Linked DNA regions of Homo sapiens: region 1 is linked to region 2. The links come from fine-mapping of genetic effects on plasma protein levels. A gene starts in region 2. The other region holds a variant in brackets. All regions are shown on one strand. Distances are from middle to middle.

Region 1 (2,500 bases), 34 kb after region 2:
AGGAAATTCCTCATTAGCCTCTGAATCTTTCAGCATAAACATTCCCCCTATAAACCAGCCCTAATCCGAGTTCTGTGAAATCTCATACTGACAATGTTGATTACAAGCTTATCTTCCCAATTATAGAACAAGGAAGAGACCAGGAATCATCCCTCCACCTATCCTGAGACAGATGCATAACTGACTTTTTCCTCCACTCCCTCTTTTCAAATGTTTATTGTATCTTACATAAAATGTAGATTTACTGAACACTAATGAGAAACTCACAAAAAAGTAACAATGTGCAGCAGGGTGTGCAGTGGCTCATGCCTGTAATCGCAGCACTTTGGGAAGCGAGTGGATCACTTGAGGCCAGGAGTTCAAGACCAGCCTGGCCAACATGGCAAAACCCCATCTTTACTAAAAATACAAAAATTAGCTGGGTGTGGTGGTGCCCACCTGTAATCTCAGCTACTTGGGAGGCTGAGGCAGGAGAATCACTTGAGCCTAGGAGGTGGAGATTGCAGTGAGCCGAGATGGACCCACTGGACTCCAGCCTGGGCAACAGATTGAGACTCTATTTCAAAAAATAAAATAAAATAACCATTTGCTGGACTGGGTGCAGTGGCTCACGCCTGTAATCCCAGCACTTTGGGAGGCCGAGGCAGGCAGATCACAAGGTCAAGAGATTGAGACTATCCTGGCTAACACTGTGAAACCCCGTCTCTACTAAAAATACAAAATATTAGCTGGGCATGGTGACACGCACCTGTAGTACCAGCTACTTGGGAGGCTGAGGCACAAGAATCGCTTGAACCTGGGAGGCAGCGGTTGCAGTGAGCCGAGATTGCGCCACTGCACTCCAGCCTGCTGACAGAGCGAGACACTGTCTTAAGAAAAACAAAACAAAACAAAACAAAAAACATTTGCCTCACTGCCTCTCCTTCTTCCTTATTTTCCTCTTGCATGCTTTCTTCCCTTAAATACTGAGTTCCTGGCCAGGCACAGTGGCTTATGCTTGTAATCTCAGCACTTTGGGAGGCCGAGGTGGGTGAATCACCTGAAGTCAGGAGTTCAAGACCAGCCTGGTCTCGACCAGTAGAGATGGTGAAACCCCATCTCTACTAAAAATACAAAAATTAGCCAGGCGTGGTGGTGCATGCCTGTAATCCCAGCTACTCGAGAGGCTGAGGGAGGAGAATCACTTGAACCCGGGAG[G/A]CGGAGGTTGCAGCGAGCCGAGATCACACCACCACACTCCAGCCTGGTTGACAAAGCAAGACTCTGTCTCATAAAAAAACCCAAAATTCACATCTGGCTAGCCTAGGCTGCTCCACCCCCTCCTTACCCCTAAACCTAAGCAAGTTGCACACACTGCTCCTCCTGCCACCCCTACAAAGAGGGGTACAGACACCTAGAAAGAGCCAGACATACTCTGGCTCTAGGTGTCTGTATCCCCACCCAAAGTGTAAGCTCCTAGAAAGCAGGTGAAGAACTGTGTTATGACCCTGAACAGCCCCATATGGTGATAGTTGTAATTTACAGGGGAATTATGCAATCTCTCCGTTTAGGAGCCTGGATGAAGGAAACTTGAAGGGGCCAGCAACCCTCAATGGAACGGACTTGAGAAATCCTGCAGGAAGAGGGGTCTTCTCGCCAAAGGGAAGTTAAAAAGGAATTTATTTTATTCTAGTCCCCAGTGATAAACCAACCAGGTCTGGACAAACTGAGAGGGTTGTCAAAGAAAAGTACCTAATGCCTTGTTTCTATTTGGAAAAACCAGGTCAGAAAAATGTATCTCTTTGGTGAGATGTTGGCTCACTGCAACCTCCACCTCCTGGGTTCAAGTGATTCTTGTGCCTCAGCCTCCCAAGTAGCTGAGATATCAGGCTTGCGCCACCACACCTGGCTCATTTTTGTATTTTTAGTAGAGATGGGTTTTCAGCATGTTGGCTAGTCAGTTCTCAGACTCCTGGCCTCAACCGATCCACCTGCCTCGGCCTCCTAAAGTGCTAGGATTACAGGTGTGAGCCACCGTGCCTGGCCAGAAAAATGTCTCTCTTTAAAGAATGCTAGGCAGCTTCCAAGGAGCATAGTGCTTCTCAGCTAGATAGAAGGCTAAAATAAAAACAAGATGAGAATTATTCTAGGGTTAGTAAAGTTGATCGTTTGCACTGCTCTCTCACACATTAAAGAACTCCTTTGCCTTGTTGTTTCAGGTGCTTTTGAAACATTGTTCAGATAATTATACAGCTCATAAAACAAGAGATTATTGTGGAATTTAAGGATGACTTTGACATTGAATCAGTTGATTGTGCGCATTTTAGAACTAAGTTTGCTAAACGTTTCTTTTTTTTTGTTTTTGTTTTGTTTTGTGTTTGTTATTGTTGTTTTTGAGACAGAGTCTTGCTCTGTCACCCAGGCTGGAGTGCAGTGTTACAATCACAATTCAGTGCAGCCTCAACCTCCTGAACTCAAGTGACTGTCCCATCTCAGCCTCCCAAGTAGCTGGGACTGCAAATGC
Region 2 (3,020 bases):
GTAATCCCAGCTACTTGGGAGGCTGAGGCAGGAGAATCGCTTGAACCCGGGAGGCGGAGGTTGCAGTGAGCGAGATTGCACCACTGCACTCCAGCCTGGGCAACGGCATGAGACGCTGTCTGAAAAGAGAAAAAAAAAAAAAAAAAAAAAAAAAAAAAAAAAATATATATATATATATATATATATATAAAATTAATACAATTGGATAATAATAGTATGTCCCTCATAGGAGTGTGATGAAGATTAAATAAATCAACATATATAAAGGCTGGCACATAGTGAGCACTGTATAAGTATTCACTGTTATCCTGCAGTTATTTATTGAGCTCCTTCTGTATGCATACTAACAATATAGACAGCAATAAGACCTATTATCTCTATCTACAGGTCTCTGTCAGTGTAGTTGGGACAGATAAACCAAGGATGACAAGCTGTGGTGAAGCTGGGCCTGAACTCATGGGCTCAAGTGATCCTCCCACCTTGGCCTTCCAAAGTGCTGGGATTACAGATGTGAGCCACTGTGCCCAGGCCCGTTGGCTGTATTCTGATAGAAGGCCTGCAGAGGTGTTAAAGCAAGGACTGATACAATTAGGTGATTAAGTCTGTTTAAAAAGATTGACAGGTCAGGGGAGAAGAGCGGCACACGGAGGTGAAAGGAGACAGAGATGAGGACCAAGTCATGAGACTGTCATGACTGCCTTTCATGATACTGGAATACAGTTGAGGGGGTGAAGCGAAGAGAAAAGGAATCCAGGGAAGAAACGTAAAGTCAGGAGGGCAGCAAACTAGGGCATCAGGGCCAGCCCCCTTTCTCAACTGGGCCCCACGCTAGTGCAGCTATGGAAGGCGCTGCTTGCTGAAAAATCCATATAGTACGCACCGTCTGCAAAGTCTCACCGGATGGGGACACTCTCCTAGTTGTGTGGCTTCCTTTTGTTTATGAGCTTCAAAGGCTGAATTACTCACCCTCAAACCCCCTCAGCGGGGTGTGGGGCCTGTAATTTGGGAGCGTCTATGCTAGGGTAGGGCAGCGGATGTCCACAAGGCCTGAGCCTCACACCCGGCTCCTGCAGCCTCTGCAGATTAAGGTCTGGTGACATGAGGTAAACACTCACTGAAGATGCTCTAAAAGTTGGCAGTCCCGGGCCGATGGTCCCTGAACTACAATTCCCACAATCCATTGGCGGGCGGGGGGTTCCAAGCCAGCCAAAAAAATGCAGGCTCTCTCTGGATGCAGTTTGAGGTGGCACTACACGTTCGCTTCCTTGACCCCATCCAAATTCAGCCAAGCTCCACCAGAACCTCCCTCAAGCCTTCAAGGAGGTCGGGTGACCCACCCAATACAGGCTAGGATGTCCGGCCTAGAAGAAGGAGGTGTGGCCGGGCGATGCCTATAGGGGCTACCCCCTTCAAATACCTTCGCATTTGCTGGGCAAGCGTTCTGTGTCATCGTCCTCCTCCTTCAACATCCCAGCCCAAGCCTCGTGCACGGCCAAAAAAAGGAAAAGCAATATTCCCAACCGCACAGGTCCCATGACAAAGCGCCGTCTACAAACAATCACCGCTTGCCTTCAACTTCGGGAAGGTAGTGTGGGTCCCTTAAATTCCCAGGCGGCTAGCGGCAACCTTAAATCCAGCCGAGGAAGGTCGGCGCATGCGCAGGATCAGCCCAACAAGGGTGGGGCCTCGTTGCTACGGGTTTCCCTGCCTCCGTTTTGTGGCGCCTCTTGAAGGTCCTGGCAGCCGGGTAGTGAAGGAATAAATTGCAGTAATTACACCAAGAGGGAGTGCTCCTTATATATAGATGTAGAAACAAACTTTTAAAATATAATTTCATTCTGCGAGCCTAGAGGACTTATTCTGGTACGGGGAAGGGGCAGTGACTTGCTCTTAGGCTCTGCCAGGACCTGCTCCCACGAGGGGGCGGGGCCAAGATGGCGCCGAGCGCCGGGTGAGCAGCGTCTCGGCTGCCGCTAGAGTTTTCCTGCTCCCCGCGCTCGGGTGGCGGGGGCGGGTCTGAGTGGTACCCCGGAGGAGACCCTTTGAAGGTCCCTTGTGGGGACTGGAAAGAGGACGGTTGGTTGTGTGTCTGTGCTCGTGGGGACCCCGTGTGTGTGCCTGCATTGGAGAGATGTTGCAGGAGATGGGGTGGGCTCTCTGAACCTCCTTTCGCGCTGCCCGGGGATCTTCGACCTGCTTCTCTGCTGGGATCTCGCTTAAGTTAACCCTTCCCTGGGACGCCTTCCTGCCGCCTCCACTGATCTGAGGAGATCCTGTGACTGTAGCGTGTTTTATGAGCCTTTACTGGCAGAGGGTACCGCCGGGTATTGAAGGATTCGTAGGAGTTCGCCAGGGAAGTGGGACACGACCCCCTCTTGTAAACCCGGCGCCAGGCACAGAGTATGTCTCGAATAGTTGTGTTCCCTATAGATAAGACTTATAAAAGTCGGGGAGGAGATCAGGGATGGTTTGAAAAGAACCAATTTGTTTTTCGGCCTCCCTCTTCCCATCCTTCCAGCACGGCCCCACCCTACCTGTACTACTCCTAAGCAGTATTGATATGTTAATCTTCCTAATGTCCAACTGCAAGTGTGCCACTTTAATTTTTTTTTGTTTTTTTTTTGAGACAGGGTTTCCGTCTGTTACCCAGGCTGTTGTGCAGTGGCACCATCTTGGCTCACTGCAGCCTCCAACTCCTCAGTTCAAGCGATCCTCCTGCCTCAGCCTCCTAAGTAGCTGGGATGACAGGTTCACACCACCAGGTCCGTCTAATTTTTTAATTTTTGCAGAAATGGGGGTCTCACTATGTTGACCAGGCTGTCTCAAACTCCTGGCCTCAAACAATCCCCCCACCTCTGCCTTCCAAAGTGCTGGGATTACTGGGGTGAGTTACCTCTCTTGGCTCCAATTTGCTTTTTTTTTTTTTTTGAGATGGAGTCTCTCTCTATCGCCCAGGCTGGAGTGCAGTGGCACGATCTCGGTTCACTGCAACCTCCGCTTCCTGGTTCAAGCGGTTCTCC

Evidence for each region. A credible set is the group of variants that fine-mapping cannot tell apart. PIP is the chance, under the fine-mapping model, that this variant and not a neighbour inherited with it causes the effect. Protein levels are from antibody-based Olink assays in UK Biobank. Linkage for the fine-mapping came from a reference panel and not from the study's own genotypes, which makes the PIPs less certain.
Region 1: its variant is the best candidate, but not a certain one, in a credible set for the plasma level of the CNPY4 protein (UK Biobank, PIP 0.53).

The regions. Positions count from the first base shown.
Region 1 is chr7:100,084,737-100,087,236 of GRCh38, reverse strand. No RefSeq gene overlaps it. Among named protein-coding and RNA genes, the nearest start is that of COPS6, 3.0 kb to the left of the region's middle. RefSeq lists an enhancer at 1-148. The variant G/A (reference allele first, on the strand shown) is at 1,198.
Region 2 is chr7:100,118,260-100,121,279 of GRCh38, reverse strand. CNPY4 (canopy FGF signaling regulator 4) reads right to left here and starts at 1,646. Exons shown (of 6, transcript NM_152755.2): 1 at 1,418-1,646. The coding sequence starts at 1,535. It overlaps TAF6 (TATA-box binding protein associated factor 6), which reads left to right and starts at 1,922. Exons shown (of 15, transcript NM_139315.3): 1 at 1,922-2,076. RefSeq lists enhancers at 950-1,019, 1,390-1,609, 1,820-1,969.